2 separate regions of the Homo sapiens genome follow, and region 1 is linked to region 2. The links come from fine-mapping of genetic effects on gene expression. Tissue or cell type: pancreas. Region 2 holds a variant in brackets; the other region holds the start of a gene. All regions are shown on one strand. Distances are between the middles of the regions.

Region 1 (8,097 bases), 960 kb after region 2:
TATATTTATTTTAAGCTTTACACATCGGAAATGTAATTAACACATTGCCTCCTTGTGAAGGCCTGGCTTCCTCTTTAAGGCAATTTTCCAGCTAGGTTTTTACTGGGAGTCCCCTCATTGTTTGGAACTACACTGCCTCTGCTTCCTTTTTTCCTTCCCTAGCACATATTCTTTAAGTACAGCCTCAGATATGAAATGAAGTGTAAGGCAAAAAATATGTATGCCCTCAGTATTTGATAAAAGTGTCATTTCATATCAAGAAAGAGTGTGATCTACATTTATTTACTCAACGCTTATTTATTGTTACTATTTTTTCTTGACCCAGTGTTTCTTGACCCTCAGGGGACCACACATTGTTCTAGACACTAAGCATAGAGGAGTGAACCTACAAGTCAAGGTTCCTGATCTCTTAGCGTTTATATTTTAATGACAGGAGACATAAAATAAAGAGGTAACCCCAAACAATAAAACATAATTAGCTAATGATAATTGCCACAAATACAATAAAACAAGGTGCTATAATAGAGAAAGATCAGAAGTCTTCTTCGAATACAGTCGTCATAGGAAGCTTTTCTAAGGAGGTAATATTTGAGGAAAAAAACATAGTAATGAAAAGAAACTACCCATGACCAGAGCAAAGCTTTCTTGAGTGAATCAATAATAAATACAAACGCAGTGAGACAGGAAGAAGTTTAGTCTGTTCCAGAAATAAAAATTAACCAGGGTAGCAAGTTTAGAGTTAGTACCAAGGAAGCAGAAAATCAAAAAGGTCGAAGAAGCAGGGATGAGCCAGTCATGTGGGGCATTGTAGGGCATGGTAAGCAGTTCAGATTTAGATTTTATTCCAGATGTGCGGTGCAACCACTAGAAAGCCTTTAAACCAAGAAAATCAGAAGTGGTATTGTTGTCTGGATATTGCTTATAAAAGATTACGCTAGCCACAGGTGGAGAATGGACTGTAGTAGGATAAGAGGGGAGGCATAAAGCCCAGTTCGGAGGTCATTTGTGGTATCCAAGCAAGAGATGATGCTGGCCTGATGTAAGGTGGTAGCCATGGAGATACAACATCAGGACTTGCTCATTTACTGGGCGTGGAAAGAGGGAAAGAAAGAAATCAAGAGTGCTAGTTAAACATTTGATCTGAGCAACCATGGGCCTGCCAGTCACTGTGCTAAGCTTAGTGGTTAAAATAGAGGATAAGACATTATGAATTTATGAAGGTCCTTGCCTTCATAAATTTTATAATCTATAGTTATTTAATAAACATGACTCAGTTAACAAACTAATAACTTAGAAAAATTAAGTTAGATCTAAATTTCATGGTGTATTAACATAATAAAGTCTAGATGGGCTAAAATGTTCAATTTAATAAATAAATAATATCTAAATCTTAGAAAAACTAGAAGAAGCAATATATGTGCATTTTTACATTCTTTAAGGATGGGAAAGCTTTTATAAAACTGATGTAACTGATAAAGAAAAATAATAGATTCGACCATTTACATTTTTAAACTTTTATATGTCAAAAATACCATAGACAAGACTGCAAGGTAAACAAGTCACCTTGAAAATATAGTCACAGCATATATGATGAAGAGTTGATATGTTTAATATATAAAGAGAATTTATAAATCAATAAGAAAAAAGATGAGCAAAGAGTCCAATAAACAATAAAGCAAAAGTGCAAAGTCTAAAGAGCCCAAACTTACAAGTACGATAATATATATATTTAAAATAAGATATGGATTTTTTTATGTTTCAAATTAATAAATGTTTAAAAGAAGTATAATAACCCATGTTAGCTGCCCTGGGAGTATAAAACTGACAAAGATTTTTTAAGCAGGGAAATTCTTCAAAATGCACATTGCCTTACATCTGGTAACTTCAATTTTTGAAATGTATCTAAAAGGTGTAGTCATGCTTGTGTGGAATCATATGTAATCATTCACTGCAGTGTTGTTTATAACAGTATAACTTTATCATAATAATTAAATAAGTAACGGTATTTTCATTTGGTGCAATACAGAGCAGCTAGTTAAAATTACATTGCAGGAAAAAAAGTGACTGATTTATAGTAAATTGTTCATACTACGTTTGATGTGATGAAAGCAGGCTATAAACCAACAAACCAAATGTAATAGCATTTTGATAAACAGCCACAGGGAAAATAAGTCAATAAAGACATTCAACAAATTGTTTATGATGATTATACTTGAGAGATGGAATTATAGGTGCTTTTTGTCCTCTACATTTCTGTGTTTTTCAGATTTTCCACATTGCATATGTGCAATTATATACTTTTTATATTATCAAATAAAAATTACATATTTACAAACAGATAAAACACTAAAAAACGAAGTCACTAAGCCTCTAACTTTACTTTTCTTTAGAAAACCAGTTGGAAAGCAGTCATCAGAGTAAAAGTTTCCACAGCATCTGCCATTTAACAGTTTCTAAGCCTTTTTGGAGTCCTTTTGAAATTGGAGATATTGGCAAAAAACAAAGCCCCCAAATCCAATGCTTGCAGGTAAAAGATGCAAAAGAATGTTGCCCTGATGCTGACAATAAGCAAATGACCCACTTCAAGCACAGACAATGGAGGTGGAGCATGGATTTGAGCAAGATATCCTGGAACCGAGAGCTGTAACTACTCTAGGTCCTGCTAGTCATCATTCAAAGGTCAGTCCATACCAGCAGCCACATACCAGAGAGTTATGGAGCCAACATGATGATCGAATTAATATCTGCAAGTAATACTAAGTCACATCTGTCCTTACATAAGATTGTAAAATCTTTGATTGTGATCCAATAAAACCATTTGCTCAAATAATGATAAATCTGATAGTTCCTGGTCTCCGCACACCACAGATTAAATAGATAAACTGCCTAATATTTTTTCTTTTTTTTTTTTGAATCAGGCTGGAGTGCAGTGGTGCAATCTTGGCTCTCTGCAGCCTCGACTTCCCAGGCTCAAGTGATCCTCCCACCTCAGCCTCCCGAGTAGCTGGGACTATAGGCATGCCCCACAATGCCGGGCTAATTTTTTTTTTTTTTTTTGCAGAGACAGGGTTTTGCCATGTTGTCCAGGCTGGTCTTGAACTCCTGGGCTCAAGTGATCCACCAGCCTTGGTCTCCCAAAGTGCTGAGATTACAGGCGTGAGTCACTGCACCTGGCCTGCCTCACCTTTTGAACATATAGGATCTTACTTAAAGTGCTATGACAAACATGCAACCTGAACATCTAGAGTCATTCTGTTTGTCTGGCGTTTGAACACGAAAGATACTAGAAATTAACTCTGCCTGCTGAACTTTTTGCAGGAATCAGATTGAATTTCTTTTGAGGGCTCTCAGGTTTACACTTGTAAAATAACCTATTATGTTTAAAAATTATGAATAGTTGCTTTACATAGGAAACCAGTAAAATAACAATGATCCTTAAAAATCTGTGTGTGTGTGTGTGTGTGTGTGTGTGTAAATGTACTTCATATTTCCACAGCATCTGTCATTTAACAGTTTCTAAGCCTTTTTGGTGTCCTTTTGAAATTGGAGATATTGGATAAAACAAAGCCCCCAAATCCAATTCAGTAGATAATGACTAAATTATTATTTATCTCCTCTGTTTTGTTTCATTATGTTCATTTTCAAACTTTGATGTCTACCAGTTTCTTCTGTGGAGCTTATAAAAAATATAAATACCCGAAGTGTATGCATGGCCTACTAAATCAGAGTCTCACAGTTGATGGTACCTGGGTTTAGCAGAATACATAGGTGGTCCTGGTGCACCCTGAAGCGCGAAACGCTGCTCTGGGTGAAAAAAAGTGCTAGCAGGGAAATGTGTTAGCAAAATAACAAGGAAAAGAAAGTTAACAAATCTCAAATTGGAAAAGAAAAATCTTAAAAAGAAAGACGTGAATAATGGCGTTCAGTCTTGGTTGGTGTCATTTCTCACAGGCCAATTACCTACAGTCTGGGTGGACTAGAGAATAGAGATTAACATCAGTCAAATCCCGTGGTTAAAGCGTTAACTAGAATGTCCATTCATTTCTCAAGAAGTGTGGCAGAGAGCAAAGGAGTGTACCTATCAGCTGTTCCTAAGAAAGTAAACACTCCCAACATGCACTGAGGCACAGGGAGTGGCTCAGGTTTCTTGACACTTCCCTGCTGTGGCGAAAAGGAGAAATAATTAACAGCTCCTGGGGCTCCAGGATCGCTGATCGCGTCGGGGGCACTGCAAGCGCCCAGCTGAGCCATGCTCTGGGAGGAGACAGGCGCCGCCCCTGCGCCCGCGCGGGCCTCGGACCTCCCCTACAGGTGAGTGACTCGCGGAGTCCCAGCCCGGCAGAGACAGGGCACTGGTTTCCCTCTACCAGAGTTCCTGACCCAGCCGAGAACAAACCGCGAAGCAAGTTCAGCCGAACAACGATGGTGAAAAGGGTCCTCCTGCTCACAGTGTGAATAACAGGTAAAAAATGGGGATGGGGAAAAAAACTTTCTAATCCACTCCCTGGGGTCATGTTGAGGGCAAGTTATTAGAAAGCAGAATCCATAGGCAACAAAGTTAAGTGTGTGTGTGTCATAGCAGCCTGAATCGCACACATGCCTTTTCCTTTTGATTTTCTCAGAATATGCTTTCCTAACCAAGGTAAGCTTGTAGGGTGGGAGGGAGAGAGGGGAAAGAAGGGAGGGAAAGGGTGCAGAGAAGGGCTTGGAGGTAAATGTGACCATAGGACCCCTCCTCCCTTTAGTTCAATGAGCCCTTCACCTGTAATTGTGCCTGGCAAAAATCGTGCCTTACAAAGATACTAGACTTCTGGATGGCATACTCCTTCCTCTGAGTATCCTTATGGTTAGAATATTGTGTTGAATCATCGCACTGGAAAGAACTTAATTGAGGGTTCAGCTCAACTTTTATTTGTTTCTGCAAAGTGACAGAAAGCATGCCCCCCACCAAAAAAAAAATGAATTTTCAATATAAGCGCTCACCAAACAATGAAATAATAAACATAAATAATTAAATGGGAGTGCATGAGTTAAGGATATGAATTCTGAAGCAGAAGAGTGGTAGGTTCAAAGCTCGGCTTTGCCACTTATTAGTTTGCCCCCTCTCAAGTTTCTTAACCTAAGCCCCAAACGTTTGTCTGTAAAACAAGCATCATCAAAGGATCTGCCACATAAGGCTTTCTTTGATGGGAACTGAACAGTCAGCAAGTGTTCTGTAAGTGATACCTACTGTTAGCATTAAGAATAAGCTGCTCTGCCAAAGGGGCCGTTATCAGGGAGGGCAAGCTGAACTAGGGAGACCAGACAGTGTGTATTAGGATGCTGGAATTGAACTGGTTCCCGGAGACTGGATCCAGGACAGGCAAGCAGGTGACAGGTGTGCTAGGATCATCTCTCTGGGTAGCAACGAAATGACCTGGCTTCTTTCCATTTTTCAGATAGAGTATGTGGTGGCAAATTCAGACATATTTGCTACTCAATCAGTTTTCTTTTGAAAAATTCACATTTACATTAATCTGTTATTCCTAAAAAGAAAATAGAATTTTAGAGTAAGAGAGTTACACACAATCTCATATTGTGGAATTCATGCCATTTGGGTTTTATAAAGGAGACTGCTTTTGAATAACTTTCATCAATTTAGACCATATAATCCATGTCTTTATATTTCAGCACATATTGAATTGTTTGTATTGAAGTGCTGTTTTTAATTTGTGTTGATGGACAAGAGACATGAAGGAATAATACTTGTATTTTGTCAGTCTCTACCTCTTAAGCTTAAATTACAGGAAAGTGGCTTTATTTTATGAAGTTTCACTTAAAGGGCACTTTTGTCAATGTTGTTAGTTATTAATGTTGCTAATTTTCTTGAGGGGACCAACTTAGTGTCTATGACTAGTAATTTCCATTGACTTCATTTTTATCTTGTTATTTTATTAAATAAAGCAGTCAAAGAGTTTGCAGTATACTCTAACTTAATATCATTGGTGTTTTAATGGATTCTTTTTTCAAATTGCAGAGTTGAAATTCTTCAGTGTGCTTACAATTAGATATTGACTGGAGAATTGTGGATAGAATTCTAAACCCAACCTAACTGAAGTTTACTATGTTATTTCCCTCTGGGGTCTGATTGTGTTTAGTACAGTTTAGCTAAAAACTTATAAAGGAATCAAATTGAATTAGAATAAGTTAGGGTTCCAATATTCATTAAAGATTTTTCAAAGAGGAAATATGCTTTTATGCTGAATTTCCATATTGTTATACATCCTTAAACAAAGTTATTTGCCTTTATATTTATTGATAGACATATGTCTAAATAAAGAATAGTAGCCCCAATTGAGATAAATTTATTTAACCATATTTGAAATTGATTTGAGATTAATCTACTTAACCGTAACTGGGTGGAAGTCTTTCTAGTTAAAATCTGTTTAGATAGATAGATAGATAGATAACAACTTTATATCTATACATTAGAATATTGTGTTGAATTTACATTTATTCTACTATTTCTCACGTGTATAACATTTTATTATAAACTATTAAATGTTGTGGTCAATCAGAGAGAGAGAGAAAGAGAGAAAAGAGTGACACAGAGAGACCCAGCAATGATTACGAAAAAATTAACTTTTCCAGTTATATTCAAAATAGTGTAACATGTATGTAACAAGTCTTTTAAGCATGTAATTAAAAGTTCTATACCTGATTCTTGTTTTAATTTCCTAAAATAAGAAGGATCCTTTACTTTTAACTGAGATAGAAACCCAATGCTGACAGTCCATTTGCTTATATAGATTCATTGATTGCAATGTAGGTGGGGAATTCACGGTTACTAGAGTTACATGGGCTTCATATAAAAGCTTAGATTTTTAAAATATTCAAGTATAGGCCATTTGAAAACAAAACCTCTGAGAAAGGAATTCTGAATATTTTCCTTTCACATTACAGTTAGAGAGTTATTCTGTTGCAAAAATTAATTTGTATGTTTAAAATGATAAATTATAGTGATTTCATCACTTTCATAACATAATCTCAACAACCAAACTTAACTAATACCACTGCTTTCAGGAGTAGAACATGAAGTGTCTCCTATTTAAGTAATAAGGATGTTAACTTAAAGGAAAACTTCATCATCACCTAGAGCCTAGTAAAGGAGCTTAAGAGGAGAGAGTGTCGATTCTTTTGCAGCAAATATACAAACAGGAAAAATGAGTCGTGATCTTTGTGACGTCAGCCTAAGAATTTCTACTGGGAAGCTCAGGTGAAGCAGAAAATTTTTGAGTTCCACCACACCAGTAATTCCAGAAGATGCTGTCGGCAGACTGAGCAGCGCCTCCCAGACCCAGTGGTGGCAAGATGCCTTAAGTGCCTTAATACAAATTTGCTTCTCTGACCGTTTCTGCTTTCTTTATCTCCCTGAGGGCACCTTGAGCAGAATAAAATGCATGGCATTAGTACCATGTAAATATGCAATAGAACAGTAAAGTTTTGGCATTTCCAATTAGATTCCACTTGAACTGAGGGCAGTGGCATGCTCACATAGAAGTGTGTTTGATTCATATTCTGCTTAGTCCTCTCTTAGATTCAATGATTATAATACATTATTTCTATCTCAAAACCAACAATCACTGACTGCAACCAATATTACTTAATTAAGTGATAGTTTGTATATATGCCAACTCTTGACCTTTACTGTCTCTGCAAATAAAGCACATTTTAAGAAAAAGTATGGAGCCAAATGTTTCCCAGAAACCATCACTCTGTTAACTCTTTTCCTTTTTTGAGAGAACTAGATACTGGATGGAATTATAGATGCTTTGTCTCATTTTCTTGAAGTGATGTAATTGCATATAACTCTGCTCTTCTCTACTCCAAGGTTCCAGGTCATAACTTTGAGAAAACAGTTTCGTTTTGGAGATGAATACATAATTGTAACTTTCTATTGCTTCTTCAAGCTGAAACAATATTTTATTAAAAAGACTCTCCGTGTGTACAGCCCTTAACATACTCTTATCTCATAATTGAAATACACACTTGCTATTCTAGTGTGATACTTTCTGTTCTTTTTTTAAGTAGCTTTTACTGGGGACGTGGGTGAGAGAG
Region 2 (8,111 bases):
CACCTGCAAAGATATTTTCACTTTGGTGCCAAGATATCTTTAGAAAAAATACTATGCATTCCTTATTTTCATCAAAATGAGACTATCTATAGATACTTACAAAGTAATGAGTGGCCAGGAGTGGTAATGCCAATATCTGATTATAGTATTTGTTTAGCTATCCTCTCTAAAAGATCCTTGTCCCATTATAATGCCCCAAATTTGACTCTTTACAATTAACTCCTTTCCTTCTTTATGACAAGGTGAGAATACAAGAATAGCTTATTGTTTTCCATATTAATGTGCATGGCAACTCACTTGGGAACTTATTATAAATGTAAGTTCCAGCATGCTACTCTCAGAGTTTCTGATTCAGTGGATCTGAGTTGGAGCTCAGGAATGTGCATTTTTCAATAAGCACCCAGAAAATTTTCATGCTTATTGTGAGAAACACTTGCATAGAAAATGGCTGGATTAGTCCCTACTCAGTCCAGGGAATAAAGAAGAAGGAGTAAGATTAAAAATAAATTTTTAAACATTGCCACACCCAGGATTTCAACTATCATCTTGTGGAACCCACATGAGACACTTTTGAAAGAGCTAAAACAAACACCACTCCTACAGGCCAAGCTTGTCATATGACACTTATTATTAGGTGATCATTTATCATGTGGAGCAAGGCTTGATCTAGGGTTAAACACTTGCATTTTTTTTTTCTTTCCTCACTGACAGCTCTTTCCCAGCCTGTGTTGAAGTGTCACAGGGCTCAGACCTTCGTCTTCTCATTTCCTAGGTTGTCCATGCTCATGACTGTAAATGTCATCTATTAAATATAAATTCCTAAACTTACATTTACAGTTTTGGTCCCTTGAGCTTCAGTTCAGAAATTTGTCTACTGGGCATCTCCACTTGAATACAGAATAGACATTTCAAACTTAACTTGTCCACAGTTGAGATCTTAACTTATAATCTCCCCAACTATTCATCCCCATGATTTATGTATCTAAGCAAAATGATAACTGAATTCATCTATTATCTCAGGATTTGAAGTCCTTTTTGGCTTATCTTTTTATATCTCTCATGGTCTACATTAAATGGGTAAGCAAATCTGTTGGCTCTACTTTCAAAATAAATCTGATATCCAAGACAGTATTTCAGTTGGATATTTTATCCTCAATGTTCCTGTCTCACCACTTTCATTCCTGCTACATTGAAAAAGCCATCACCATCTACTGCCTGAATTCCTTGCTGGATCCCATGCTTCTTTTCCCAACTTTCCTACAACATATTCTAAACAGAGCAGCTAGACTGATTCTATTAAATCATAAGTCAGGTCCTACTCTCCTTTATTGAAATCCTTCAAAAGTTTCCAATTCATTTCCAGTGAGGTAAAATTCGTATCTTTACTATGTGTCTTAGTCTGTTCAGACTGCCATAACAAAATACCCTAGATTTTGGTGTCTTAAATAACAGAAATTTGTTTTCTCATAGTTCTGGAGGCTGGAGGTCCAAGATCAGGGTTCCAGCATGATTGAGATCTGGTGAGGGCTGTCTTCTTGGCTTGCAGATGGCCACCTTCTTACCGTGTGTTCGCATGGCCTTTCCTTGGTGCATGCAAGTGGAGAGAGAGAGAGAGAAAGAGCAAGCTCCCTTGTTCTTATTAGTGCCTTCTTATAAAGGCACTAATCCTATTAGACCAGGACCCCGCTCTCATGACCTCAGTTCACCCTGACTAACTTCCAAAGGCCCACATCTCCAAATATGATCACATTGGGGATTAGGGAATATGAATTTGGAGGAGACACAAATATTCAGTGTCTGATGTATGGCATATAAGACCCTTCACAATTTGGACCTGGCCTTATTTCCCTCCTCTCTTTTATTCACCTATTCAGATTCAACCATCTCTGTATTCTGGGTTTTATTTGAACCTACTCAGGAATGATCCTACCTTAGGATCTTTGCACTCACTGTTTCCCTTTTCTTCACATAGCCAAATGGTTCTTCTTTAACTTTATTCAGGTGTTTTATTAACTGTCAATTAATCACAAGTGACTTTTTTTTTTTTTTTCTGAGACAGGGTCTCATTCTGTCACTCTAGAGTGCAGTGGTGTGATCACAGCTCAATGCAGCCTCGACCTCCTGGCCTCAAGTAATCCTTCCACCTCAGCCACCTAAGTATTATAGCTGGGGCTACAAATGCACACCACCACGCCCAGCTAATTTTTGTATTTTGAGTTCGAAACCAGCCTGGGCAATATGGCAAGACTCTCTTTCTATAAAATACACATAAATTAGAAGTGACTTTCTTGTCTATGATTTTCAACCAAAGACCATGAGGAACACACCTATAGTCAGTGTTGGGCTTCTTGGCTCATTGCTGTGAGAGAAACACACCATGAGTAGCCATGTAGTGTACAATAAGGGAGTTTTAGAAGGAATTTGTCATAGGGCTCAGGTTTGTGCTAGGTGATTTTAGGGAGGATTCAGTGAAGCATGATTTTGCTTCCATATTGGAGGCTGTCAGAAAATGGGCAATTCTTAACAATTTTTAACTAGGATGAATGGTGTGAGACTAAAGCTATAATTGATGAAGAATCAGCAAAAGCTATTATTTATATTAGCTGGATGAAGGGAATGTTTGATCATTTTTGCGATTTGCACAATATTACTGTGTTTATCTGTGCTCAGATAGGGTTACTATTGGGTTTTGGTTTTGTCTTGTTCTAATACAGTCACAAAGGTGGTCTGGTCTGATTTTACTTTTCTGCAAAATTATTTATGTCTAACCAGAGAACACTTTGGCCATCTCTTAGCTGACAGCAGTTGGGAGCTTCTTTGTTCATACTCAGTCTGAAATACAACTTCTTATTGTTTTTCTTCCCTAATGCCCCTTTATTTTTGTTATTTTTCTTCATAGTACATATCACTGCCATAGTACAACAAACATACCAACATGTTATTGATTTCTCCATTGTCTATAGTCCCCTACATGTAAATTCCATGAGAGTTGGGATTCAGGTTCACTTGTTCCACTCCATGACCCGGAATATAATAGGAGATCAATATAACAGGACATTAATATAATAAATGTTCAATATATACTTGCTAAATGATTTTTTTCTATTACTTGCTAATTTTCCTAAAAAACTCACATCAAAACGAACCAAATTATAAAAGAGCCAAAAGGTAACAAATATCATCTTCATAGTGTATGAAGTTAAACATAAATAAGATGTAAATGAAGACACAACTAACAGATTTATATCAAATTATAGGATTGTTATATAAATGTTAGTATGACTTTTATAATAATCTTCAAATGTTGGACTGTCTTTTACACAAAGTATAACTAGCTTTTAACTCTCTGCAAGAAAAATTGGAATTAAATTAGAGATAAAAATAAATTCCCCAAGTGGGCAGACTGCTAAAGATGAACTACTTAAATATACATATGCATGAATTATTACATAGCTTTTAAGGAAAAAAAATCAAAAGTGCTCCTTGATAGAATATATTCATATTTTTTGCACACATGTACAGTGCATTTTTAAGTAATTTTCATAAGTAAGTAAAAGGGAAGAAACTTACTTTATTGAGTACACGCATAACCTATTTAAGACAACTGCTCACAGTACTTTGCTAATATGCTGCTTTTCTTTGAAATTACATGTGTGGGTGTGTGTTTGTCCACTATGTGTGTATCTGTATTCCCCACTCACCACCCAAAGAGCCAATTACTAGTAAAGCAAACAGAACTGAAAACCATCCTGCAAACGCTTCTAGCTGGTGAGTGCTCGGGGGCACTGTTCAGAGAGTGTCTGGGTCAGTGTGCCCTCAGTTATAAAATTGGCTTTTGGTTAAAATTCCTATAGCCAAAACTTTCTAAAATGTTTATTGTTTCTTTCTATTTCCTTCTTGAGATCTCATTATTATTTCCCTTTTAAGGAATAGGTCATATTGTTTTGCTATAGAAATTGAAAACATGAGACATTGGCTTTCATTTAAGCAAATGAAAAATTAAAGCTTTTGTACTTCCAGGGTTTATGTGTCTATAATTAGAGTCAATCAAAGAACCAGTCTGTCATATTTACCAAATCCAAGGATAATAAAACCTGCATACTAACTATAATGTATTGATACCGTGTGCCAGCCAGTGTAGTAAATGCTTTATACTACTTGTCTCCTTTAATTCTCGCAACACTGAGATTTGTAATAATTCCCATTCTAGACATAAAAAACGGTCAGAAACATCAAATTTCACCTTATAATTGGCAAAGCAGGCATATAAACAGTGGTAAACAGTGCAATAATCCCCTAAAGATGTCCATGTCCTAATCTCTGGAACCTATATGTCACTTTACATGGCAAGAAAGAGTTAGGAGATAAAATTAAACTAAGGATTTTGAGAGGGAAGATTATCCTTGATTAATTGGGTAGTGTAACGCACTCCATGTAACACAAGGGTTTTTATAAAAGGGAGGCAGGAGGGTTAGAGTCAGAGAACAGATCTGATGGTGGAAGCAGAGGTTAGAGTCATGAGCTTTGAATGTGGGAGAAAGGTGCCATGATCCAAAGAATGCATGTAGCCTCTAGAAGCTAGAAAAGACAAGAAACAGATTATCCTCCAGAGCTTCCAGTAGAAAAGCAGCCCTCCTGACACCTGAATTTTAGCCTTGTTCACCCATTTCAGTCTTCAGACCTCCAGGACTATAAAATGATAAACTTATGTTGTTTAAAACCGTAAGTTTAGCCGGGCGCGGTGGCTCACGCCTGTAATCCCAACACTTTGGAGGCCGAGGCAGACGGATCGCGAAGTCAGGAGATTGAGACCATCCTGTCCAACATGTTGAAACCCCATCTCTACTAAAAATCCAAAAA[G/A]ATTAGCCGGGCGTGGCGGCGCGCGCCTGTAGTCCCAGCTACTCAGGAGACTGAGGCAGGAGAATTGCTTGAATCTAGGAGGCGGAGGCTGCAGTGAGCCAAGATCGCGCCACTACACTCCAGCCTGGCAACAGAGCGAAACTCTGTGGAAAAAAAAAATAATAATAAGTTTGTGGTAAATTTTTATAGCAGCAATAGGAAACTAATACATAAATCAGGTCTGTCTAACCCCCATGTTATAAAACCATATGACAATACAGGCATTTTCACCAACTCACACACTGGTTGGTTATATAAGGCAAATTCAACTGAAGAAAAGTAATAATCTTCATTTTGTTACTGTAGACCATATTGACTCTGCATATTTGAAAACTACTTCATGAAACATGATTTCTGTTTCCACTGTTTATGTTAAGGAAGTGTGTTCTCTCAGTGAGTTTCCCTGGATGAAGTTATTTGTTTTCTCTGTCCATAATAGATGATTAATTTATTTAAGGATGAGTAATAAGCAATTTTTGTATTGTACTCTGTCATCTGTACTTACTGTATAACTACTTAATCTGCTAGTTTTAACAACCATATTGATTTAGCCACTCAAGTTAATCCCTTTCTGTGTATGTTTTGAAAGCATATAGGTGAAAACCCAGCTATAGTTAATGCATCATCAAAATAAGTTTACCAACCAGGACTATTATAATCATCTTTATCAGCAGTCTTCTTTCAGCAGGAAAATTAGTATTAGATTCTTTTTCCAAATGCCAGTCCTCTGGTAAGGGCGTCTGAGGTGAATTTTCATTCTTTTTTTTTTTTTTTTTTTTTTTGAGACGGAGTCTTGCTCTGTCGCCTAGGCTGGAGTGCAGTGGCGTCATCTCGGCTCACTGCAAGCTCCGCCTCCCGGGTTCACGCCACTCTCCTGCCTCAGCCTCCCGAGTAGCTGGGACTACAGGCGCCCGCCTCCTAGCCTGGCTAATTTTTTTTGTATTTTTAGTAGAGACGGGATTTCACCGTGTTAGCCAGGATGGTCTGGATCTCCTGACCTCGTGATCCGCCTGCCTCAGCCTCCAAAAGTACTGGGATTATAGGCGTGAGCCACCGCTCCTGGCCAATTTTCATTCTTTAAGGGGAAGAATTACAGTGTGTTCATATGCCTTCTATTTCAAAAATTGAAGTTAGGAAGAGATGGAAATCTTCTGAGGGAAGGTGACTAATGCTGGCAAAGCCTCCTGTCATTTATCAATTATTTATTGGGGACCTATTATGAATAGTAGGAGCTGAGATGACACTGCTATACATGCTAGACAAAGAATAGAGTTTACTTTCAAGGGTGGGAGATAAAAAATGAACATATAAAAACATAAAAATCAGAAGAAGTTCTATGAAGAAAGACTAGCAAAATTGAAAATGAATGTGCTTGTGAGATTAGCACCTAGCTTCAACACACAAAACAGAACAAAAAGTGGCCAAATAACTCTCAGAGTTAACTCATTTCATTATGAGTATGTCAACATGAACAATTTAGATTTTATGTCGAGCAAAAGCAGAAAAACCATTAACTACAGATCTTTCATCTTGGCTTATCTGTTTAGTTGACATAAGCAATCAGTAATAGTCTTTTCCCAACACCTCTTCATACCAATAACTGGGTCTCACAGTGACAATGGCAGGGAGACAAACACTCCAACATGACTTGCTGGATTTGTCCCTCAGCACCAAGTGGTGAGGGTTTGTCTTGCTGTATCTTTTAGTCTATGCTAGAAAGTTTCTCTTGAATGTTTCCATTGAATGTAGCATATGTAACAAAAATACCATCAAATTTGAAGGTAGTTTTGGTTGTCTGACCATCAATACTTCTTCCTTGGGCACCATTGAGACGAATCATTAATATTTCAAAGAGAAGCTCATTTGAGACATTGAAAAATATACCCTCAGCCTCCAAATGGAGTTTTTATGTCCCTTTCAGCTAAAAAGTGATATATTGGTTATCTGGAAAAGAAGTCTTGCCCCATTTAAACCTCATCCACTTCTCTAAAGATGAAGTCTCAGGTTGTTCACATATCTTTAAAAGTCTGAATAAGCAACAACCACAATTGATTTATTATTTTCTATCTGTACTCTTTAATAACATAATCAATAGCATTTTGATGGGTTGCCTGACATTTCATCATGAAGCAATCTTCTAATAAGGATTGTGTGTATAAGGATATTGCTAAGTGGCCCATCCACTCTAGCTCCCTGGAAATAGCTTGAGAACAAAGATAAGCCTGGTTTTATCCAAAAGTGTTAAGAAAATATTTTTTTTCTTTTTGCCTTTACTTTGTGTTTTATATTCTGTCAAAATCGGCACTATCTTCCCTCTGTAGGAGGGACTGTACTTTGTTTTCTTTCATTGCAATGGGGTAGAAATCGTCCTAGTACTTCTGCCTGAAGTTGTGATTCAATAACCCCTTTAGGGTTTATCTGATCCAATTAGAAGTCATGAACCTTAAAAATCTTCTGGTGGGCAGATCACTTGAAGTCAGGAGTTCGGGACCAGCCTGACCAACATGGAAAAACCCCATCTCTACTAAAAATATAAAAATTAACCAGGTGTGGTGGTGCATGCTTGCAGTCCCCAGCTACTCAGGAGGCTGAGGCAGGAGGGTTGCTTTAACCCAGAAGGCAGAGGTTGCACTGAGGCAAGATTGTACCACTGCACTCCAGCCTGAGTGTCACAGTGAGACTCTGTCTCAAAAAAAACAAAAAAAAAAAAAAAAAAGAAAAGAAAAAACATTTTTTGGTGGGGTTAGGGGGACAAAGAATGGAGATGTCTTCTTCTTTCATTGTTTCACTCAGACAAAACTTAAGGGCCTATGGCAAACACCCAACACAATGTTCTCTATTTCTCTTGTTGAGGACAATGATAGGCCTTCAATCTTTTATGTGTTAGAAGTTCATTCAAGCATATGAATATATGCCTGTGTATATCCATTCAACAAATACTTTTCTAAGCATGAGGGACATAGGAGTGAATATTATTAGAAAAATCCCTGACCTCATAGAGACTATGTCCTGACAAAGGTGTTCTTTTCATAGGGAATGTGCTGATCTTACATATTCATCTGCTCTCCTTCTTTACTGCAGATGTGTGGAATGTCATTTGGAAGGGGTCCAGAGACATTGGAGAATTTTATTTAATCTCATCTTATTTTCTGGGAGAGGGAAAAGCCATTACACTGGATTGTGAGGGAGATCTCAGGCCTTTAATAGAGTAT

Evidence for each region. PIP is the estimated chance that this variant, and not a neighbour inherited with it, causes the effect.
Region 1: it holds the start of RASSF6, and the variant in region 2 is fine-mapped to the expression of RASSF6 in pancreas (GTEx, PIP 0.98).

What each region holds. Positions count from the first base shown.
Region 1 is chr4:73,616,653-73,624,749 of GRCh38, reverse strand. It overlaps RASSF6 (Ras association domain family member 6), which reads left to right and starts at 4,314. Exons shown (of 11, transcript NM_177532.5): 1 at 4,314-4,462. RefSeq lists enhancers at 3,742-4,290, 4,291-4,840.
Region 2 is chr4:74,575,777-74,583,887 of GRCh38, reverse strand. The region is part of intron 2 of LOC107986229 (a long non-coding RNA gene); the gene reads left to right. It overlaps LOC124900716 (a long non-coding RNA gene), which reads right to left. Exons shown (of 2, transcript XR_007058141.1): 2 at 2,851-5,003. Among named protein-coding and RNA genes, the nearest start is that of AREG, 130 kb to the right of the region's middle. The variant G/A (reference allele first, on the strand shown) is at 4,861.